Homo sapiens: one gene and its partners. The protein of the gene in region 3 interacts with the protein of the main gene of each other region in a pairwise test. Each region holds a gene or a part of one and is shown on either strand. Other genes may lie near its edges.

The links.
Region 1: the proteins of TMEFF2 (region 3) and ZDHHC15 interact in binary tests that used the Homo sapiens proteins (3 or more experiments, as listed by UniProt).
Region 2: the proteins of TMEFF2 (region 3) and DRD2 interact in a two-hybrid assay, tested with the Homo sapiens proteins (one large-scale study listed by BioGRID and IntAct).
Region 4: the proteins of TMEFF2 (region 3) and NBPF19 interact in a two-hybrid assay, tested with the Homo sapiens proteins (one large-scale study listed by BioGRID).

The regions. Positions count from the first base shown.
Region 1 is NC_000023.11:75,428,017-75,434,045, reverse strand, and holds part of ZDHHC15 (palmitoyltransferase ZDHHC15), read left to right. Parts: intron 1-2,525; coding exon 2,526-2,595; intron 2,596-4,065; coding exon 4,066-4,098; intron 4,099-4,847; coding exon 4,848-4,968; intron 4,969-6,029. UniProt on the Homo sapiens protein: Palmitoyltransferase that catalyzes the addition of palmitate onto various protein substrates.
Region 2 is NC_000011.10:113,422,459-113,428,487, forward strand, and holds part of DRD2 (D(2) dopamine receptor), read right to left. Parts: intron 2,225-6,029; 5' UTR 2,194-2,224; coding exon 1,909-2,193; coding exon of another isoform or gene 1,905-1,908; intron 1-1,904. UniProt on the Homo sapiens protein: Dopamine receptor whose activity is mediated by G proteins which inhibit adenylyl cyclase. Positively regulates postnatal regression of retinal hyaloid vessels via suppression of VEGFR2/KDR activity, downstream of OPN5.
Region 3 is NC_000002.12:191,998,248-192,004,276, forward strand, and holds part of TMEFF2 (tomoregulin-2 isoform 1 precursor), read right to left. Parts: intron 962-6,029; coding exon 813-961; intron 75-812; coding exon 15-74; intron 1-14. UniProt on the Homo sapiens protein: May be a survival factor for hippocampal and mesencephalic neurons. The shedded form up-regulates cancer cell proliferation, probably by promoting ERK1/2 phosphorylation.
Region 4 is NC_000001.11:149,472,891-149,479,588, reverse strand, and holds the start of NBPF19 (NBPF family member NBPF19), read right to left. Parts: upstream 4,545-6,698; 5' UTR 3,794-4,544; intron 3,692-3,793; 5' UTR 3,657-3,691; coding exon 3,482-3,656; intron 1,645-3,481; coding exon 1,542-1,644; intron 710-1,541; coding exon 495-709; intron 1-494.

The DNA of each region.
Region 1 (6,029 bases), on a different chromosome or scaffold from region 3:
ATTCCTGCAAGAATGGCCGTAATTTAAAAATCAAAGCATAATAAACGTTGGCTTTGATGTGGTGAAAAGGGAACGCTTTTACACTCCTGGTGGGAATATGAACTACTACAACCACTATGGAAAACAGTATGGAGATTCCTTAAAGAACTAACGTAGATCTGTCATTTGATCCAACAATCCCACTCCTGGGTATTTACCCAGAGCAAAAGAAGTCATTATATGAAAAAGACACTTGCACAGGCATGTTCATCGCAACACAGTTTGCAATTACAAATTACAAAAATATGGAACCAGCCCAAACCAATGAGTGAATAAAGAAAATGTTACATATATATATATATATATATACACACACACACACACACACACACACACACACACACACACACTACTCAGCCATAAAAAATATACACTACTTGGCCATAAAAAGGGAACAAAATCATGGCATTCTCAGCAACCTGGATGGAGTTGGAGACCATTATTCTATGTAAAGTAACTCAGGAGTGGAAAACCTAATATCATATGTTTTCAATTATGAGTGAGAGCTAAGCTATGAGGATGCAAAAGCCTAAGAATGATATAGTGTACTCTGGGGACTCAGGGGGAAGGGTAGGGGGTGGCAAGGGTTAACAGACTACATGCTGGGTACAGTGTTTACGGCTTAGATGGTGGGTGCACCAAAATCTCAGAAATCACCACTAAACAACTTATCCATGTAACCAAACACCACCTGTTCCCCAAAAACCTATTGAAATAAAAAAAGTAAAATTAACCATCATACCAAAAGGAGCAGAGGGATGATCATCCCAGGCAAAAGGAACTGCAAGCACAAAAAGCCTTGAAACAGGAGCAAGCTTGATTACAAGAGCAGATAGGCAGCCAGTTTCACTGGAACATAGTATGAGGAGAGTTTTACAAGATTCATTTGAAGAGATAGGCAGAGGCTAGATGATACAGGCCATGGTAAGGAGTTTGGATTTTATTCTGAAGGTGTTGGAAATCCATTGAGAGTTTTAAGTGGAGAGTGATATGATCTGATTTACATTTTTTTTTTTATTTTTAGAAACAGGATCTTGCTCTATCGCCCAGGCTGGAGTACAGTGGTTCATTCATGGATCACAGCAGCCTCGAACTCCTGGGCTCTAGCAATCCTCCCGCCTCGGCCTCCCAAGTAGCTGAGGCCACAAGTGCACACCACCATGCCTGGCTAATTTATTTTATTTTATTTTTTTATAGAGACAGGGTCTCACTATGTTGTCCAGGCTGGTCTGGAACTCTTGGTCTCAAGCGATAGTTGTGCCTCAGTCTCTCAAAGTGCTGGGATTATAGACATGAGCCACTACACCAGATCTGATGTAGATTTTGACAGATCACCCAGCTACTCTGTATAGTAGGTCTTTTGAGGGGCAAGTATGAAAGCAGAGTGATAAATTACACAGATATTGCAGTCAACTAGCTAAGAGACAATGTGGCTTAAATGAGGATAGGAGCATTGACAGTATATTTTAAAATATGCAAAAGGACCCAGATATGCATGTTCTTCTCCCTTCCTCTTTGACTCAATTATACCCACGACTTTAGTCACTCACATACTTCCATTAGTGGAAGTAAACACAAATCTCTGCTGAATTAACTGTCTATTGTGTTGAATCAGTAATATGTGCTTAATGTACACTTTAGATGAAATGATTATATTAGTTCAAATTATTCATCATTTTAGTTTTTATACTTAATAATCACATTAAACACAGTCGTACTCTATCAATGAACATCTAGAAAATGAGAGGGAAAGTAAAATACCTTTCATCTAAAGGAAAGGAAGGAAGGAAGAAAGGAAGGAATGAAGGAGGGAGGGAAGGAGGAATGATTTTTTTATATTAGAATCCTAAAATAAGAATTACAGAGTTAAAAGAATCCTAAAATAAGAAATCATCAAAACTGTACAGGTCACAGCCCTGCCAGCAACTTGCTGTGTGACCCTGGGCAAATCACTTGATATGACCCAGATCTTTATTTCCTTTATCTGTGAAATGGTCAATTAAACTAATTGTTCTAGAATGTCTCTTCTGTTCCCCAAATTATTATTCTAGAAACCACTCTCTTTACCATGTTTTAGGAGTGTTATCCACCACATACAATCCAACCTCTGGAGACAGGAGATAAACTGTGAATCCTTATTTTCAGATCAGAAAGTTGGGGGTAAATAGAGGCTAAATGGTTTTTCAAGATCCCTCAAGCATTTGATAGTATAGTTTGTTTTATAATGAAAGATCTTATGACAGATATCCAGATAAGAAACTTTTCTCGTTCCTTTCAGCCCCCAAAAGTGCTTTCAAAATTGGATACAACAAGGAAAAAAATATATACCCCAATTCTCTTATGTAGTCTGCCTTTTGCTTGGTAACTTGAGATGAGTTTGACTATCTATAATCAGTGCATAACAAGTCATCCAGATAAGCTAGTAAGATATAAGGTCTTATATTGAGCCCTAACAAGTGCTAACCACCTTATTTTTTTTTTTATAGCTGTACGATTCTGTGACCGGTGTCATCTGATCAAGCCAGACCGCTGCCACCACTGCTCTGTCTGTGCTATGTAAGTGACGGCCATATTTCCCCTGGGCTGGGCTTGGCCACTGAAGGTTTCCTAGACAACAAAATGACTGATCCTAACATGTAATCATACCTAGATAAGAGCATTTCCTTTCAATTATAATGAGCATATGCCAAAACCCCTCACACGGATGATGATGATCCAAGCTACTCTAAAGATAAGTAAGAGAAGTAAGACCACATTTTAAAAACTAACATTGTATTTGTGGACAGTTTTAGACTTACAGATTTATTGTGAAGATAGTTCTTGTATGTCTCACACCCAGTTTCCCTTGTTGTTAACATCTTATATTTGTATGATACATTTGTTACAATTAATGAACTAATACTGATACATTATTTTTAACTGAAGTCTATATTTAGATTTCCTCAGTTTTTCCATAATGTCCTTTATCTGTTCCAGGATCCCATCCAGGATACCACATTACATTTAATAGTGATGTCTCATCTCCTTAGCTTCTCTTAGCTGTGGCAGTATCCCAGACTTGTTTTTGATAACCTTGACAGTATTTAGGATTAATGGTCAAGTAGGTCATAGAGTGTCCCTTGATTGAGATTTGTTTGATGCTTTCCTCATCATTGTTAGACTGGGGTAATATGATCTGGGGGAGGAAGACGACAGAGTAAGGTGCCATTCTCATTACATCATATTAAGGGTACCTATAAACATGACTTATCACTGAAAGGTTAATTTTGATCATCTGGCTGAGGTAGTATGTCAGGTTTCACCACTGTAAAATTGTTCTTCCTTTCTATGCTTTACTCTTTGAAAGGAAGTCACTATGCACAGCCAACACTAAAGGAATGGAAAGTTATGCCCTCCATCCTTGAAGGTGGAGTATCTACACAAATTATTTCAAGTTATTTTGCTTGGGACATTTATCTCTTCTCTTCATTTATTTATTTATTCAATCATTTATTTATATCAGTATGAAAGCATAAATATTCATTTTACATTTTGCATTATAACCCAATACTACTTTTTTGTTGCCCAAATTGTTCCAGCTTTGCAAACCCCATTTTTATATTGATACATGTAATGCCTTTTCTCTTGAGTACTTATTCCACCCATATTTTTCTTACCCTTGATTCAGATAGAGGCTATAGCCATATATTTTCTTCTGTATTTTTATTAAACTAAGTATTGAATAAAATGATAGGAGACATCTTGAACCTTTTCTCTGTATTAATAATCTGGAGTTTCCAATCCCTTTGAAAGGTTGGACTTATAAGCATGTAACTTGCTGCTGGCATGATCCTATAAAGTGTTGTTGTGATTACCTCATCCTAGAAATAACTGAGGGCCACAGTTTTGGAGTCACTATAGTGGAAATCTGAGAATGGGTGTTATTAGAACCATGTAAAAATACTGGTGAAACCTTGAGTTTAATTATGAGATGTTGCTTCATTTCCATAGCCTCACTTATCACACTGTATTTTGTCCCCTTCGTAGGTGTGTGTTAAAAATGGATCATCACTGCCCTTGGTATGTCTGTTTGATTCATTTCTCTCCTCTAAAGGGGTCAAAGTTGCTCAATTATATGCACTTTTCTAAGCATAGTTGTCACATGCCTGTTTCTGCCACCATAATTCACTGGGTTTTATATTTCTGTAGGGGACAGGGGAGGGGTAACATTTTAAATAAAGAAAAAATATAACACCAAAGGTATGGTAGTGAATTCCTGGAGTTACAAAGCTAATGGTCTCATATTCATTAACTTTAGCAATTGAGCATAGTAATGAAATACAGCACAAACATTTCTCCTTTTAACATTACACAATTCAGTTCTGTTTCTAGTTGGCTTGATGTTTGAAATATTCTAGAATGTTAAATTCAGCAATTTTCCAAATTTTGTATATCAGACCCTGCGGGCCAGTCTGAAATCACCTAACTACAAAAAGAACATGCCACAACTGTACCAAATGTAGCTGCTAAAACTGTAATACATTTTTAGCAACCAGGATCCAGGTTTGCTTGGATGTGTCACGAACCAGTCCAGAGCTATTAGGCAGGCCAGGTGTTTCTGTGCCTGTAAATGAAAGAATAAACAAGTGAGACATGAACTTGTTTTATCCAGTTTGTTCTTATTAAGGGACTTCTATCTCTATTGGGCTTTTACACGACACATAATGAAGCAGCAGAACTAGCATTATTCCATTGCTTAGTTCACTTATGTATCAGTGTGCTCTCAATCAAGAGGTCCTGATGTCAAATTAGTTTTTCTTTTTTTTTAGGGTTAATAACTGCATTGGATTTTCCAACTACAAATTCTTCCTTCAATTCTTAGCTTACTCTGTTCTCTACTGCCTGTACATTGCTACGACAGTCTTCAGCTATTTCATCAAATACTGGAGAGTAAGTTAAAAATATCCTGAAGGGTCCCCTAGAACAAATGCACACCCACTCCAACTTGTGACATTGTTCACCCTCTATCTTTTTACATTTTTAAATAGCTAATACTGTTGAAGTAACTGGAAGAGAAGGCACTAAAAACAGGTTTTCCATATTGAATACTCTGAGATTTCGGAAGCTGTTATTTAAAGATTCTAGTTAAACAAGTTTCTGTCATACACGAGAATCTTGCTAAGGCCTTTGGGTACCTAATCTCTTGACTCCTATTGATTCTTTACAATGTATTTCTCCAGGTGAGTTTTAAAGTTCCACTTCCTACCAGTTATAGATTTGAAAAATGTTGAAACTAATTTTAAATCCCTAGTTTCCTAAGAAAAAGGCTAACAAATCACTCCCCTGTTGTTAGAAAATACTTCCTAATTCCCTATTCAAAGGAGAGTTGCAGAATTCCTATGAGACAGAAAGATATACTGACCTATCTCACATAATGGGGAGGGGTTTTTTTGTTTGTTTTTTAACTTTGTTTGACAAACACTGGGTTAGCAATTAGGAGAACTGGGATCTAATACTGGATCTCTTACCTGCTTCACTGGCTCATTGCCAAGATCAAATGAAACAGACGTTGAAAGTGCTTTACCTTTAAAAATGTGAGTCTAATAATTATAATGAAATCTCAAAAAAAGTTATTTCATCTACTTGAAGATATAAATCATATCCAACTACTTCCAAAAAAGAAAAACAAACTTAAGGCAGATTTTTTTATTTACATATGTGTACAAGGTCTGGCAAAAGTATAGTGAAATATGTTCTTTTTAAATGTCATACTAGTGGACTCCAGGAGATATCCCTTCCCCACAACTCCAGTACAATTACTAAGACATCCATGATGAAGGCTGTCCAAACTGAACCTGAATATCAAAAGACAGATGTGGACAGAGCTACTAGTTATTTAGGGATTGCACAAAAGCCTATATAACATGAATATCTCACCTCAAATGGAGACATAAAGCCGTAGAGAAAGAACATGAATTCAGTGACCAGAATATAGACTATAATAAACTGAA
Region 2 (6,029 bases), on a different chromosome or scaffold from region 3:
TGAGACCTAGGACCCTCCTTTGGAAGAGGGAAGAAGGAGGGGATCAAGCGTAAGAATTAAGAAGGCATGGACAGAGTCTAGGGGCCCTCATAAACATGGATCCAGGGGGAATTGGACTCCTGGCCTGTGTCAACTGAATATTTTTATGTGGTTTTGTATTTGTGTTTCCTTTTGGTTCTTCCTTAATATCCAGTCAGGTCATTTTGGAAGTTGCAGCCTGCATTGGCTGTAGTAAAGGAAGCCAAGGGGTGATGGATCAGAGCTCCCTTGGGCCCGGGGTGGTGGTGAGAACAGTAAGCGCACGAGCCCCTTGGGGGCCCAGGGACAGGGAGGTGTGCCACTTTCCACCAGTCTCGCCTCCTCACCTGAGCGTCCTCATCTAGATTTCTCCCCTGTTTAAACCTACAAAGCTTTCTCATTTTCTTTCAACAACCCCTTCCCTCTCAGGCAGGGATGGCCTCAGAGGCACTGGTCAATTCCTCTCCTGCTCAGGGAAGGAAGGTAACGGTTCAGTGGGCAGAGCACCGGCACTTTCCTAAATGCCTGATCCCATGCCTTCCCATGCACCTAGACTCCCAGATTGCTTGAGTCCTGGACATGCCATCCTAGAAAGCTGGGCAGAGAAAGGGGCAGGATCCAGCTTGTGCCCACCGATGATCCCTAAATGCTCCCACATCTGCTCGCTGGCTCTGAAGGTGTCTTCCTGGAGAATAATATCTGCTTTGGGATTTCTCCATCAGCATTTCTCCCTGTGACCTGGGTGAAGAAAGGCAACTTCTCCAAAGCTTCTATTTCCTATTTTGTTTTTGTTTTAATTTAATTTTATTTTTTTTTTGAGACAGAGTCTTGCTCTGTCGCCCAGGCTGGAGTGCAATGGTATGATCTCAGCTCACTGCAACCTCTGCCTCCCAGATTCAAGCAATTCTCCTGCCTCAGCCTCCCAAGTATCTGGGATTACAGGCATATGCCACCACACCTGGCTAATTGTTGCATTTTTAGTAGAGATGGGGTTTCACCATGTTGGCCAGGCTGGTCTTGAACTCCTGGCCTCGTGATCTGCCTGCCTCGGCCTCCCAAAGTGCTAGGATTACAGGCGTGAGCCACCGTGCTCGGCCTGTTTCCTATTTTGTAAAGTGAGAAGAGTAGCATGGACTCCCAGGGTTACCAAGAGTATTCACTGGGTCTGTGTCAGCAATGCACCAGGCACAGTGTCTAGACTGTGCTGCCTACTCCCCATTTTGAGGTGCAGAGCTGGGCCAAGAAATGAGTGACTACACAATTCTTCCTAACAAAAGGGCTACAGCACAGTCCATGGCAGCCTCTACCTGCAGGTCCTGGACAGGGCCCCAGGATAAGCTGTGGGAAGGAGAGGGGATATGGGGAGCATAAAGCAGCAGACCCATTTCTGAAGTGGGGAGATGGGAGTGAAGGTTTCAGGGGCCTGGGAGCATAAACATGCCCCTCCTTGGGGATCCTTGCCGGTTACTCCTATTTCCAATATGACCTAAGGAACTAACTCTGAGGCCAGAATTCCAGCTTGGACTTGCCAGCCGTGTGATGCTGCAGCAGTTACTTAACATCTCTGACCACCTGGTTTATCAACTGCAAAATGGTGGCAATAATGCCAGCCTCTAAGCTGCTGTGAGGGTTATATAGGAAAATGCTATATTTAAAGTCCCTACGTGAGGCCCAGCACTTAGTAAGCACTTTACAAATGGTAGTTGGGATTATTAAGGAAACAATCTACCCATTTCGTAAGGAGAAAAAGTAAGCCCAGAGTGAAGGAAAAACCACCTGGGGAAGCACCAGGAAACTCATTGGTAAAAGCCAGTGGGGAGCTAGAGTCCCCAGTGTCCAGTGCAGGGCCCTGCTGGAGAAAGTGCTGGAGCAAGCAGGGGGCCCACCTACCTCCAGGTAGACAACCCAGGGCATGACCAGTGTGGCGACGAGGAGGTCGGCCACTGCGAGGCTGACGATCAGGTAGTTGGTGGTGGTCTGCAGCGCCTTCTCGCGGGACACAGCCATGCACACCAGCACGTTGCCGAAGACGATGACAGCGATGAGCAGGGTGAGCAGTGTGGCATAGTAGTTGTAGTGGGGTCTGTCCGCCTTCCCGTCTGACCCGTTGAAGGGCCGGCTCCAGTTCTGCCTCTCCAGATCATCATCATACCAGGACAGATTCAGTGGATCCATCAGGGCGGTGGAGCCACTGGGTGGCCAGGCTCTGGCCAGGAAAAATGGACACAAGGTGTCAGTGAGAGGGCCTCTTGCAGAGGTCTCCAGGAAGAAGACCAACTCCTGGCATTTAATAATGAGAATTTTCCAACTCGGGATTTTAAGGTTTACGGCTAAGAATTTTCTAAAAATGTTGGGCCTTCTGCCACTCTTTTGCTAGCAAGTTTTTACAGCTGGTAGGACAAATGAGCAAACACAATTTTTTAAAAATGCATAATAAGATGAGCTTGAACAGAGCTGATCCATCATTTATTTATTCATTCAACAAACACTTCTTAAGCACGACCCATGCACCACACACTTCAGTTAACCAGGCTTGCTACCTTCTAGTCATCGAAACAGAAATGGGTATTCATTCATTCTTGATTCTATAAATATTTATTAAGCATTGTTCTATATAGTTCTAGAAATATAGGCAGGAACAAAATATACATGGTTCTGTAGCTCACATTCTAGGAGAAACAACAGCCAATTAATCAAGCAATTACATCTAAGGGTGATAGGGAGTAGGAAATGGAACAGGGAGAGAGATACATAACCTAGTTCAGGTATTCAGGGAAGGCTTTCTAGAGGAAGTGATGTTCAACAGACAAACAACTGAAGGATGTGTAGGAATTAGCCAGGTAAAGAACTAGGAGTCAGCAGAAGGTCTAGACATTGGAAGCAGTATATGCAAAGCACAGAGGTAGAGAGGTAGACAGCAGGTGGAGGGCCTCAAAGAGATTCTGGATAGCTGATGCAGAGGGACCTGGCAAGGGTTGAGTCTGGGGAGGTTGCAATAGGCAAGATCATAGAGGGCCTTAAAAGTCATGCTAGGAGTTTATACATGATCCTAAGGGCAGCAGGAACCACATGATCAGATTCGCCTTTCGAATAGGTGATTCTGACAGCACTGTGGAGAACGGAGAGGAGGGGCCCAGAGTGGAAGCGGGACACCAACTGGGAGGCTGTAGCAGGAATCCAGGTAAGAGATGATGAGGTTTGGCAGGATGCAGGGAGTGAAAGCCCTGCAGAATGGGCATCTCATCCCACAGAAGGGAAAGACTTCCTGAAGTGGGTATCATCTGGGATGAAGTAGAAGGAGGACTTAGCCTGCTAAATGAGAGGGGTGGGGGGATGTTCCAGACAGACAATATGACATGGTATCAAATCATCAAACAGCAAACAATTCTGTTTGGCCAAAAATGTAGGGTATGGCAGTAACGTTGAGGATAATTAAACTGCAGGGACATTTACAGGCCAGATTGTGTCTTGTCAGCTGGAGAGTCCCTGAGAGGTTGGGCCCAGAGACATGACCCTATTGGACTGGTGTTCTAGAAAGTGTATGGTGTAGAAGAGAGCTCAGAGGAGAGTGATGTTTTGGCTGTAATTTAGGTTAGAAATTGTGGTCATCTGAACGAAGATAGTGGAAACGAGGATGGAGAGACCTGTTCAGAATTAGGAGCTAAACTGCAAGTCAATTTCATGGTCCTTGGTCCTTGGATAGGTGTGGGGCAAAAGTGGGTATGGGACAAGCAGGGAGATAAGGAGTTGAGGGTAATGCTAGGATTTCTGCGTGGGGCTCTGGGAGGCTGGTGTCGCATATTCACAGAGAAAAGGGACCAGAGGGGCTCAGGAGCAGACTTGGGAGGCATCAGGAGTTGATGAACTTGACAGCCGGAGTTTTGGTTGTGACTGAAGCATAATGCATGGATAATATAGTTGGCTTTTCAGCTAACAAAAGTCTTCCTCTTTTACAGAATAGAATTAAACTTATCAGCATTCCAAGGTGTTTCATACAAAGCACATGACTTCCAGGTACTTTGCTACTGCAAATTGAAAACCACCAATTGATGCCATTTGGGATGAATGTGGTGCCATGTCCAATCAATGAACAGGGCACACCTCCAGCAATGGGTCAGAGAGGATGGTGGAAGAGGGTCTGCCCAATCTCCACACTCTCATCCCTGTCTGACACACCCACTCTTCCAGCTTTAGTAGAAGAATATGGATCATGTCCTACCAACCACCATCACTCTGGAGCCTCGGGGAAAAGCAAAGTGCCTAATTCCATGTGGGGTGACATGGAATGCCACCACGCAGCAAATCTTCCTGTTCTAAGGTAATGAAGCATATGTCATATTGATGCTGTATTCTGCAAAACCAACTGAGCCCTCTTCCCATTTGGAGCCCACAGCGGGAGGCCTGCATGTATGTATTGATCAGGTGCCTGGGGCTGCTTCTGACATTCATTTACTCAATCGGCATTTATTGAACCTGCTGGGCATAAAGCACTGTGCAAAGCAGTGTCAGGGGCCTGAGGCGTGTGAGGCACACTTACTGCCCCCATCCTGACCATCGCTCTCTTCTTCTCCCCCCACTCCCTGCTGCTGATGATAGCATCATATACTTGTAAAGGGTTTGATAGTTTGCTAAGTTTTTTGGATATACTGTCTCATTTATCCTCAAAACAACCCTCGGAGGCTTTTAATTATTATCCCTGTCTATGGCCATACTACCTGGAACATGCTTGATCTTGTCTAATTATTATCCCTACTTTAATAAGAAAGGGATTTGGAAAACTCTTCTGTTCACTTCCCTTCCCTCTGCTTTTCCAGTCCCTATGCATCCTTCAAAGTGAGTCTTGCCTAGAATCCTCCTGTCTTAGAATCCACCCATATCCTCCTGCCTGAGCCATCACCCACCCTCCTCAGGGTCCTGCAGCACTGAAACACACCCCAGTGCTGCAGGAGACACCTGTTTAGGAGTCTCTTTTTTTCACTGGGGTGTAGACATCACAAGAGTTACAACATGTCTTGCTCATTCCTCCTCTTGTTCTTGGAATGAACAAATAAAAACCATACTATCTTGTTCTTTCCCAACTCTTGACTCTGGTTTGTGGGCAGTACGTATTCAACAGATGTTTGCTGAACTGAATCAAAGGCTCTGTTAGTGCAACTGGGAAGAAAACCCCTTCCCACTTGAAAGGCACCTGCTAACATAGGCTACCAGATTAACAAGTGATGAAAAAGTAAGGCACCCCAAGGGTGCCATAGGTGCTGCATGTTGGGTCCTGTTACAGTCTGCACTATGCTCTTCCCCCAACCCACAAAATGTATATGTTGAAGTCCTAACCCCCAGTACCTCAGAATGTGACTGTATTAGGATACAGGGCCTTTAAAGAGTTGATTATGTTAAAATGAGACGCTTAGGGTGGGCCCTAACCCAATCTGACTGGAGTCCTTATAAGAGGAGCTTTGGACATAAAAAGAGACATCAGGGATGCGCGCACAGAGGAGAGACCAAGTGGGAATGCAGCAAGAAGGCGGCCATCTGCTAGCCATGGAGAGAGGCCTTAAGCAAAATCAGCCCTGTTGACACCTTGATCTGGGACGTCCCAGCCTCCAGAACTATGAGGAAACAGATTTCTGTTGTTCAATCCACCCAATCTGTGGAATTTTGTCATAGCAGCCAGAGCAGACTAATACAGGTCCCTAGAAGTAGACTCTGAAGAGGAAATCAGCCTGCAGGAAATGTACAGGGGAATGCTCTCAGGATCAAGATGTGCAAAGAAGTGAGGAAGCAGGACAGGCCAGAGGGAGAAGTCACAAGAAAGGCATCAGGTGACCCCACAGGGCACCCTGCCAGTTGCCTAAATGAGGGCAACAGGGTAGGGCCTTTAATCCCCTCTCATAGATGTCACAGCTTCTGGCTGTCCCAGGGAAAGCAGCGAGGCCTTGAAAGAGGCATCTCTCCTCAGCAGTGGGCAATTGCCAAAAACTGTCAGTTGCCAACACTCCCAGTAGATGGGGATG
Region 3 (6,029 bases):
AAAATATTATGTACCTGCATAATCTGTTCTTGCATAATGCCCATCTTCAGACTTAGTAGTTGTAGTTGTGTTATCTGTGTTAAAAAATTAACAATAAAAATTGATTAACTGCTTCCTAAATATCTAATATCAAACTTATATATTTCCTCCAACAATATCTTCATTGCAATTAAGGAATTTTTACAACTGTAGTTCTAAGCAACCTGCATCATACTAAGACAGATTTACAATGTCAATTTCTGTCTGAGAGCAAATAATAAAATGAAGAGAGCTTTCTAAAGTTTGGGAGAAGAAGAAGATTCACAATTATAACTGAGAAAAATTGGTCAAAGGAGTAACAAAACCTAAGAAAATGCTTGTTTCTGAACAAGAAAGAAAATAGAACATTCTAGTACCTCTTGCTTTTAAAAATGCATTTTAAATATTTGTACTGAATCAATACATAAAAATGAAGTGATTTGCTTTTAGTTTCAAGGATGTCTAATAAATTCTTAGATTCGTTTTAAAAATGTTTTTGAGTTTCTTTTTTCCCTTTGCAAGAAAATTGTCTGCTATCTTGTGAATATTGGCTTCTGTGTTTATGGCATTGTGACAATACAGTTCCATTGTATAGAGACAGATCTGGACGGTTGCTGAGAGCCCCTCAAAATCCTATAATCGACACAAATGCTACAGTAGACTCTACTATCCATTGTAAATAAGCACTGCATTTTGGAAATGGAATAGCTGCCTAATAAGGAGTTTTCTTCACTTTTCATTTTTGCACAAAGACTAAAATCATTCTTTGAAATGAATTTTGGTATGAACATTACCTTGACATCGACCCAAAGACATGACTTCAATTTTCTCCTGTTTCTGACACGATGCTTCTTTGATTTGGCATGCATTATCATAAGATTTCCCATCAGAAGCGCAGAGGGGATTGAAGTTGGTTTGAGAACAGTCAATATTACACACACACCTAAAAAAAGAGAGAAATAAAAACATGTAACATCAATAGTGTTGTTACCACATTATAAATAAAACACAAATGAAAGAATTGCTAAGTTGACAAAATGCAAGTTGGCAAAATTGAATTGTATCCTTCCAGGGAAGTTCCTTCACTTTTCTAACTGAGAAGAAAAGAAACACAGAACTAATGGAAAATAATTCAAACAACTGAGCAATGGATAAAAAATAAAAGGAAAAACTCAAAAATGATCATCAGTTAATTTCTGCCCTGGAACTTTTAAAACATGTACATAAATTTCCATGCTGATATCTGCAGAATATGAATAGGCTGAGGTCATGAAACTCTGCTTTAGAGTTTTCTTAAATTGAATCTTACTCTTCCTTCTTTTCTTGGGATATTTGAATGGTTAAAGCTTGTGGAAAACTGACTCAGAGGACAGTTCAGAGAAAGCAAACAAGTAAATTATTTGGCATGCAATCAGGAGTCGTATTTCTTTGGCATAAATAAGGACGCACATAAAATGTACTAAAAGGACCAATCTTCAATGGTCCTTAACATTTTGGGGGGGCCACAAAACCCTTTGGAAAAATGAAAGCTATAGATCTCTCCCCAGAAATATCCATATTCATATAAACAACCCTTCTGTATAAAATTTCAGGGTTGTCTTGGGCCCCTTTAAGCATATCCTATGAAACCCCTTCCGAGATATACACTACTATTTTTCTACCTCTCATTTTAAATAATAAAATAATAAATACAAGTTGATTGCCACTCATGATGTTAATATTTTTCTATAATCTAAATAAAAATTCAGTGATTTAATGAGAATTAGGTTACCTAAAGAAGAATTAAACATTTTCAAGAAAATTTTATATGATTGTTCCTATATCTTTACACTTCTCTATTTTATTATTCTGAATATTGTGTCTTGTGTGTTTTCTGGTGTATGTGTACAACCATGTTACAGCTTTAGAATATAAACTCATATTTTAAATTTTTATTAATATTTATGTTGTTTTTGTAAATAGATTATATGTTTCTCAAAGTCATGAAGCATACATTTTTACTTCTGTATATTTTACTGAGAGCTAGGCATACAATGGCAAGCAGGTTACTACATGCTAGACTCTCAACATGTATTGCTTTATTTAATCCTCACAACAGCTGTTTTACAGACCAAAGACATTACATAAGGTTAGACACTAGTAAATTGTGGAATAAGGTCCCACTCATAGATTTGTTAAGCTAAAACCCAACCCCCTCTCTCTAATACCACAGACTGTGTTATTAGAATCTCCTGGAGAACTTTTAAGTATACAGATTCATAAGCAGATTTCTGGGCTCCAGTAAATCTAGGGTAGCTTCTAACATTCTATATTCTTAAGTAGTCATCCTGGCACCAGACTCAATTCCTGGGAATCACTGCTTGATCAGTCTGTTGATTGAGAGAGGCTTTGTATACACACCAGTGCATCTCAGAGTGTAGTCCTTAGACCATCTGTGTCAGAATTACCTAGATTGCTGTTTAAAAATGCTGGCAGAAAATGTGCTAATGAACTTACTTATTTATTTATTTATTTTGTAAGAGAATTGCTGTAGGAATGCCTGGTTATTTTTACATTTACCTATTTAGGAACAAATAGCTACAACAGATGGCAACCATCTCTAAACACTTAACTCATTGAGGAGCGGTGTTCCTACCTTAGCTTTGATGTTGCCATGTGATCACAAGCTACTGGAACATGACATTGCTACCTCAGCTGATTCTTGGCATCTGAAAACCTGAGATCAGGAGCTGCCTACATGTTCAAAGAGCTTCTGGTTCTTATAGAGCGGATGTGGATAAGTGACTCTGTAGGCCAAGCCTTAATCATTGTATTAAATAAAAAAGGAGTGAGGAGGTTGACATTTGCATTTTTAAAAAGGTAGTTTCTTTTGCCTTCAAACCAGTTTAGATTCTGACTGTTGTTGTGTTAGACTCTAGGAATTATCTCCTTCAAGGTCTTCTATAAAGTTGTTTGTTAGCAACTGAAAAACAGAAAGGTATGTTCTGTCACTTGTCTACCTAAATGGTAAATTAGATAAGATATTAGGGCTTTGACGGTATATCCAAATTAAGTCCAAAGAAATTTAGAAATGTACACTATATATATATTTTACATTTTTATTAATATTTATGTTTTTGTAAATGTTTTGTAAATAGATTATATATATATACAGTGTACATTTCTAAATGTTTCAGTGAAAAAGTCACATATATATATAGACAGAAAGTAATTGGCAGTTCAGAAACCCATTTGATAGCATGACAAAATGGTGCAAAGGGAATAGAGATGGTGATATAGTTTGTCTGTGTCCCCACCTAAATTTCATCTTGAATTGTAGCTCCCATAATTCCTATGTGTTGTGGGAGCGACCTGGTGGGAGATAATTGAATCATGGGGGCAGGTATTTCCCTTGCTGTTCTCATGATAGTGAATAAGTCTCATGAGATCTGATGGTTTTATAAAGGGAAGTTTCCCTGCACAAGCTCTCTTCTCTTGTCTGCTGCCACACCTTTCACCTTCTGCCATGATTGTGAGGCCTCCCTACCCACGTGGAACTGTGAGTCCATTAAACCTCTTTCTTTTGTAAATTGCCCAGTCTTGGGTATGTCTTTATCAGTAGGGTGAAAACAGACTAATACAGACAGAAAGATAAAATTTGATTGAATTGGACTGGTTAGAATCAGTGTTTCACTGAAAAATTCACTTAAGCTTTAACACCAAATTGAACAATTGTGTGGGATATTTTACAAGATTCTCCAATTGGTGTATTTATTTATTTATTTATTTATTATTTTTCAGTTTGACTAATCTGATTTTGGTCCCACAGCTTTTCTGCTGCTGACATCCTTCCCCCTTTCCTTTCCTAGCATCGCTTGCTCAAGGCCTCCTTTTAAGATTTGTTTCCTCTCAAAATTCCTGGCTCTTGTTGCCTCAAATAAAGCCTTTCATGGAATGGCTAAGAAACAGGTATAGATGGTTGATGTTTTTATTCTCAGCCCAAGAGGAGGACATAGATTCATTCCTTGAGGTGAAAGTTTCCCTGGGATATAAGCTTCAGGAATGCATGGATTATATTGGTCTTTTTCTCAATTGCATATCCTCATCATTAACTTCCATCTTTGCTCCCTACTCTATATACTTGCATATATTAAATAAATGCAAGAGTACATTTTAAAAATACTTCCTGTGACTCTCAGCAATCACTGGAAATTGGAAATCTATGGAGAATATTTTTTTTTTTTTTGTGAATAAGTGGAAGAAACTTCAAAGATTTGCTAAAATGGCTTGAAAACAATAAGCTGGCCGGGCGTGGTGTCTCATGCCTGTAATCCCAGCACCCTGGGAGGCCAAGGTGGGCGGATCACCTGAGTTCAGCAGTTGGAGACCAGCCTGGCCGACACGGTGAAAGGCTGACTCTACTAAAAATACAAAAAGTAGTCAGATGTGCTGTTGGGCACCTGTAATCCCAGCTACTCAGGAGGCTGAGGCAGGAGAATCACTTGAACGGGGGAGGCGGAGGTTGCGGTGAGCTGAGATCCCACCACTACACTCCAGCCTGGGCAACAGAGTGGGACTCTGTTTCAAAAACAAAACAAAACAAAACACAAAAACGATGAAGCTTGGGGAAAAGGAAATGTTGTGACTGGATTACCAAGGACCTACCATTTCTATGTTTCCAAAAGACCAATAAACTCTGATTACATAATCATTATTTACTATATTCCATGTATATATGTCTATTAAGCTTATTCAGTCAGAAAAACATGCAGGATTCCAAGACCATGGTCTGAAACTCTAAGTCCATCTTGATCTCTATTTGCAGTGATTGAATTATCTTTGCAATCCCCAACCCGCCCAATATCTTGCACACATGAAACTTTCAATAACTACATGTTGGATAGCTAAATGAAATGAATGAATACACTAACAATTTTACATTCTTAAAGAAAGGTTGCTATTCTAAAAGTTACTATTACTATGCCCATCTTACAGATAAGAAAATTGAGACTTGGAGAAGTCTCACAGCTTGAAAATCGAAGAGCCTAAATTCAAATTTAGGCAGTCTGATGTCAGAGCCTGCCCTGTTCTACATACTGAAAGTACAAAGAAAGACAGACCCAAACTCCTATCACAGACCCAAATTCCTATCACTCTCTGATTAAAGGAATCCTTTGAGTAAATAGGATTTGAAAACCAAGGCTATGTCTACTCTTGGAATATGTCATGATTTTATGAATTTAAATCATATTGACTCTTGGTCCTTGTCTTCTCAAACAAGCAATCCAGACTTTTTGTGCATCACTGGGATATATCAGTGAATGTTAGTTTTAAGACATTGCAAATTAAAACCTGGTTTTAGAATTAGTAACTAATTTTATGGGCATTAGATTAACCTGACTATCTAAAGCATCAGTTGCTCAAAATATTTTATCCTTAAATAAAATGCTATATAAAGATCCACATGAAAACTAATATTTACACGCAAATACACATACACACAAACACACAAATGTATAGCTCAATGAACTCTACTGAAATTACAAAATTAGAGAGTTTTAGCATTAATTTTTTTCCAGGTGTCTGCTTCAAAACTTTCAAAGAGGAATTTGGGGAAGTTTACATTCATGGGGTAGAGGTGGTTTTGTGTGTTTATATGAGTGAAAAAATTTGTGTGTGTGTGTGGGGGGGGGGCTCACACTCACCTCCATGGTGCATTTACTGCATTGGTAATGCACCTGTTTACTTGTTTATACCTCTACTTTTCTGCAACCTTCTCAAGGGCAAGGTGTTTTACTTACCTTTGACATCCTGGTACCTAGTACAGTGCATTACAAACATCTTCAATAAATGGTTGTTGAATAAATTACTGAGAATGGCAGATGGTGTTGAAAGAGTTGAAAATATTCATTGTGCTATATATTAACACCTAGGAGAGATAACTTTGTGCTACTTGGCAGATGTGGGGTCTCCAAAGGAGAGGGGGTTCCTGAAGAACTAAGGCTCACTGTCCTCCTTTTATTTGTGTTTCC
Region 4 (6,698 bases), on a different chromosome or scaffold from region 3:
CTTCATCTCATTTTGAAAAGCATTCGTAAGTGTTCCCATATTTGGATGCTTCAGACCCTTGCAAGAGACAATTTGTCTGCCTTTGCAGATGGAGAGAGAGAAACTCTGAAAAGATAAATCACTCACTGACACTTACTAAGAACACTGCCAAAAATACAGCCTGGGAACCTTCATTCTTAGCCCAGAGCTCTTTTCACTCCAACAAGCGCCCTTCCATCACAGCCTCCTTCCTGTCCTTTAAAACTAGATAGATGCTGCCTCTTGCTCCAAAGACCACCTTCCATCAAGGAAGGAGGGACACTTGCAATACTGTGACCTCCAAACCCATGGGTTTCCCATCTCTGTTCTTACCCAGGAAGTCCTGATCATGTCATGGCCACATAGGTGTAGTAGAAAAAAACCCCACTGATATAACTGTCATTGTGAAAGTATGGAGGTCTGGAGCCTCTCATAAGCCTGGGGTTTTGGGTCATCAGGGCCTATGGCCACCTTACCTGGGCTGAGCTTTTGGACAAGGTGCTGTGCCAGTCTACACCCCTCAGCCAGCTGTTCTTGGAGGTCCTGCCCCTGGGACTTGTCCGGCTCATCCGGAGTGAGGAGGGCCTGGAGATGCTCATTCAATGAGCGGGAGGCATCTCTCCCTTCCCGTAACTTCTCCCTTAACTGGGTCAGCTCTCGTTCCTGAGAGTGAAACAGGACTTTATATTGCCTAAGGTGAGACGGTAGAGAAAATTTAAGAGTAGAAAGGGTTGAGTGATCCGTTCAAATATTGCAACAGAGACTTCTGAGACAATGTCCTCAAGGAGACCTCCAAGCAGAAGGTCAGCACATGTTGAAAGGAATGACTGTGGCCAAGAGGAAGAATAGAAAATGGTCTACAGGCTTTCCCTCTATCAGAGAGGGCTCCTGCAAGATCCTCGATGATGTTCCATTCATCTTTCTCTTCTGTAAACAAAAGTAGGTGTCTTCCTAATTCCGTTTCAAAAAGACATCCTTTCAGTTCCTCACTCTGGCCATGGACATTTCCATGTGAAAATACACATAGTGCATCTTGCGGCCACTAAATACAAAGCCATGTACAGAAATGAGGCCAGGTGCAGATGGGGCGAATTGAAAAGATGAAAGAAGAAAAGAAGGACAGGGTCAAGAAGGCAACATTGATTGAGTGAAAGAATGAGAAGACGCAGTCAGTCAGGAGGTGATTCTCACTAAGGGTAAGTGGGGTGGTGATAGCACACCATTTTGATTATACTGAATGCTGCTGGGTGGTTCCCACTCCTTTGGTGAATTTTGTGTTATGTAAATTTCACCTCAACAATTACTTGTTTGAAAAAGAGAAAACAAGGCTCTAAGAAACAACTGCAACACAGAACTTATTATTATCCTTGTTCACTGATAAATATTTGTGTGTCATGAGCCTGTCATGGCAATTTCTGCCCTTCCCCTGGCCCAGCTTCGTTCTTATTTCTCCCCGCCGAGCTGCTGTACTTCAGAGATCTACACACCTACCCGCCTGCCCTCCCCCCACGGGGTCCCCTCACCTGAGCTCCTCAGCTTGCTTCAGCTGCTCTGCAAGCTTCTCCTCCTTGAACTGTCGCTCATTCCTCAGCATAAATTTTATGAGGTCTTTACACTCTTCATACTCTGAGAAAAGACAGACACGCCTGCCTCAGTGGAAGGCTGGACATGCTGCTGTGGTCACTGCCTACAGGGCAGGAGCCAGGTCCATCCCAAGGACAAAACTCTCCCCAGTACCAGGGTCTAGACAGGGATTTCCACATCTTTATTCTTCAGTCTCCTGACTTTCTGGCATCTGATCCTCCAAAATTTAAAGACGAAGAAAGAGAAACTCAAGGGCGCATCAAGGAAGTTGACAAGATGATTCAACCACAACGAAGTGGAGTCAGAACTCACAGCCCCTGAGGTCTGACTCTGAATGCGGGGCCACTTTCCCAAGTCTTGCAGCCTCTCCTCTAAAACACTGCACTGGGGCATGAAGTAGTGATTTCTTGTACAGTCGGGAAGGCCCCTAGGACTATGGGACTGATGGTTTCCCTTTTACTGGGTATTTCAAGGACAAATATGTCAAGGACTTTAAAAATATTTCATTTTTAAATCAATATTCAGATATGGTTTTAAGAATCATATCTGAAGCATAAAGTGTGAGATATAAGACAATAAGGCCATGAAGGAAATATGCCCAAATACTTTATTAGTATGAGAGGCAGCATTAAGATTTAGATTAGTTGTGTTAATTTAGAAACAGCATTAGTTTGTGTTAATTTAGAAACATCAGAATGAAGAACTAATAGATAGTGTTTCCACTGTGCCAATTAATGTTCAAGGAGATTGACAGGAAATACCTCATGTAATTCATTGCAGCAATTTACAGAGGTAGGTATTATTGTAGTACCCTCTGAACAGATGAGGAAACTGAGGGACAGACAAGACAAGCAACTTGGATGGAGCCCAGGAGACAGGCTGAGGGTCCCTGCTTTGCACACTGCACTGCTGCTTCCACACATTCTCCGGTGTGATCTTTCCTCTTTAGGAACAAGAGCCTGTGCACCAGGAAGCAGGACTTCACTCTCACCAAGGTACTCTCTGCTTTTTATTTTTATTTTTGATTTATTTATCTTTTTGTTTGTTTGTTTTTTGACGAGTCTTGCCCCGTCACCCATGCTGGAGTGCAATAGTGCAATCTTGGCTCACTGCAACATCTGCCTGCTGGGTTCAAAGGATTCTTCTGCCTCAGCCTCCCGATTAGTGGTGATTACAGTTGCCCGCCACGATGCCCATCTACTTTTTGTATTTTTAGTGGAGATGGGGTTTCTCCATGTTGCCCAGGCTAGTCTCAAACTGCTGACCTCGTGCTCTGCCCGCCTCAGCCTCCCAAAGTGCTGAGATTATAGGAGTGAGCCACGTTGCACGGCCCCTACTCCCTGCTCTTGATGCTGTCACTTATAGATAGCACAGGTTCTATTAGGAGCAGACTCCCCTTGAAGCCCCTCAGAGCAGGTACTGGCTACTATCACCAAGTTCCCCTCAGAGTCACTAGAACAGAGCTTTGCCTGTTGGGCCTCAACAGAAACTTGAACTGAATAAAAGTTCACTAGTCCTAGACATTTAGAACAACAGACTAGATGTTATTTGTCTGCAGGATCTTATATGGTACAGAGAGGATTCTTAAAAACATGATTGAGCCCCTTGGAGAAAACAGGTCATTCTGTGCCTGTGTTAGAAATCAATAACTGTGAGTTTAACTCTAGTTCCACCCCCATCTGATTGCAAACATGGAAAGTTGCTAAATACTTTGGCACCTCTGTCTTCCAACTTTAACAAAATGTTAAAATACCCATTTCTGTTTTCCTAGAAGTACAGGAAGGATGAAATTATTTTTGATGGAGAGAGCATTTAGTGTCTCAGAGAGAAGACAGGATATCATTCATCACTTTCATGATGGTGAGCCTATAGATCTTACTGTATTTCTTCTGTCGGTTGGCCAGGAAGCCGGCCAGTTGAGTTAGAAAACATTTCTCTTTGAGGTTTCTGAACTGCTGTTTCTTCTCTGCCAGCTGGGGGCGCAATGTCTCGTTGATTTCTAGAATGTTCATCTCTGCCTTCTCACTGGACCAAGGGCCGGCTGATACCACCATGCTGACGTTTGTGGCAGAAGAGGTGGAGTCAGGGACTGGGGAGAAGAAACCCAAACATATGATGGGTTAAAAACTGGTGAAATCAAATCGGTTTAATCAGGACTGAGGGATGTCAGTAACTGAAATTCTTAACTTACTGTTGTGAAAAATGTGATCACTCCCCACAGCACTTTAGGATCCTTCACCACAAAAACAAGGTTCGAGGTGCCTCAACTCAGAGCTGAAAGCACTGCCAGTAGCTCAGACTCTGATAAGAGTGAGGCAGAATGTGGCCAGCGTGCCAGGTAACCGTCTGCAGTTGCAATAACAGAATTAGAAGGTGGGGGTGTCATGGAATCTTAGGAGCTCTGCATTCCAATTGCCCAGGCTTTGCTGAAACACAGGCACCCTACTTTCACCTGAGGGTCACCACCAATGGGGATCATTCCTTCAGCATTCACTCTCAGTATTCGTGTACCCTTGTGACAATGCCACAGACCCATGTCTTTCCCAATACATCTAAGCATATTCCTCACTGTTTATCTCTTGTCTGTACAACATCATCAAGGCAGAAACAGTTTCCCAACAGGTTATATTTTCTTAATGGTAGTCATGAAGTCACCCCACCTGCTCTCAGTTAAAACAGAGCTTAAGGCTTTTCCACAGGTGTAAGATATCAAACTTTTAGCCTGCCCTGATATCCTCTGGGTCTTCTGCAGTTTTTTCTGTATCCACTAGAAAGTGAATGAATAATTCATTTTTTTAAAATATTTTCTTTCCTGTCTCAGTATTCTTGCTGCTGCATCCCATTGTTAGATTGATTTCCTCTTTCTTACTGGGGCACCTTCTTGGGTTTTCATTACATTCTAGACCAGTTTGACATCCCTACGTCCAAAGCTCTTCCTCTATGTGGGTTGATTTGTTTTTTAATGTCACTGAGCACTACATTTTATACTTGTCACTTATAGATGTCATTCTAGTGCCACAAGACCTCTTTTCAAGGTATCAAGTGATCAAAGTCATTTATATAGAGGTCTCCTGAAAACATGTGTGACCATCTATCTTGGGAAGTTTTGTAAACCTGATGCTATTTTGTTGTTTCCATTTTGTTTTCCCATATACTGAAAAGAACAGGGCCACGAGCAGTTCTTATGGAATATGGTTTGATATATATTTTGTTGAGATGACCTAACACCATTGATTTTGGGTTGCATTCCACTAACAGAACATGGCAAGATCAAGGTTATGGTCAGGGTTGGTTGGCGATCCTCAGTGTTGCTGTGCAGTAGAAGGTGAGTTTGAGGTGAGAGGAACAAGTAGGAAAGAGTGATCCCCTGAACCACCTCTTCGCTTTCTCAGCTTTCATCCCCACCTAGGTTTTGTGAGCCTGGAACTTGAGAGACTGTTCTGTAGCCCAGGTCTCCTAAGATTGGCTGCTGGACTTGCCTGAGTTGAGGGTGCAGTGGGTTGACCCTGGGCTGCCCAGCATTCATGTGGAAGTGAAGGAAGGAGGACTGGTTAATCCCATTTGAAAGCATCCCTCTCTGCAGCCCGCACCATCTTCCAGTGACACTGTAAGGATACTGCTTTGAGATGTATCAAAGGCTTTAAGTCAATGTATTTTCTAGGGTCTGGGAGACCTGACATTCTGTGTCAGAATGAAAATCTGTCAAGTTTCTAAATGAAAAAACTGCAGGTTCACAAAGTGTCATGGGTTACTTGAGGTCACAAAGGGATGAGTTTTCAGCACTGCCAATAAAAGCAATCACAATAATTATTCAGTAATTATTCATAGGATCCATACAATCCAGTAAATATTCACATATTTAGTAATTATTCATTGACCAATTCGTACAAGGCATTTTGCTCAAAACTGTGTTTATATTTGGACATTGTATCTTCATCATAATCCTTAAGGTAATGCTATTATCTATAAGTAACAGATAAGAAACCTGAAGATGAGGGACAGCTAATCACGTATTTGGCCATATTTCCATTTTTTGGTTTTTGTGATGCTGGAAGAATGACCAGAATGGGTCACGGGAAGAGTATTCATTCCTGTATTATTTTCCAGGACAGAGGTGTGCCCTTCTAGAGTACTGGGACCAAAATTCAGAAGTGTCTGAAACCTTGCTTTAACAGTATGGGAAATAACCTCTATCACCTGGAATTTCCCTGGAACTTTGGAATATACAAGAGAAGTATGAGACGTGGGTCTTCCCTTGGCTGTGTTTAATTCACTCTTCTATGGAATACCAATGATTCTCACTAAGACTTTTGCCTTTTTATAACCACAATGTATGTCTTATGGAGAAGATTGTACACTTTGCTCTATTTAGAAAGAATAAATATGAGCAATAGTTTTAGGTTTTATGCCCTGGACTTCATATTTTTCTGATTTCTGTTTTGAGATTAAATTCTCATGTAAATAGAAAAATACTTATTATTTCTCATCAGGCCAAGTTTGTTATCAGCTTGAGTTTTTGAAGATGAAGCACAAACTTTTGATTTTATCTTTGTCCTCATCAGCGCCACTCATTGTCTCTCAGTATGACCTGGACTTGCCCCTGCATTTACCCTCATCCTGCTGAGCCATCTCCATGCACTGCCCAATTCCATCAGTGATTCGGGGTCCTCCCAAGGCTCCCTGAAATGTGCACAGGGATCAGGACGTCAGACACATTCCAGACACAAAGGCAACCCACACTGTAGAGTGAGCAGCTGTGTTCCCACTTCCCTAATGTTCCAGTGATGTCCTCAAACTGAAGGGAACACTTTCCCTTTTTAAGGGTCTGTTCTTCATGTCTCAATGCCTCTGATCTAGTGAACACAACTGTCCTGAAACTGAAAGAACCTGCTAAATTTCGAGTTTCTGGTTAGGTGGCTAGAATAGGTTTATAAGACTTCCTTACTTACCTATGACTGCTGAAGTTTGAATTCTTAGCAGTATGATTCCTTTTCTTGTAAGCTGAGCAGCTTAGGAAAGATTGGCCATGTTGCTGTGCAAAAAGAGGTAAACTTAATTTATACTCAAAGCATGCTTGAATTTGGAACTAGGGCTTC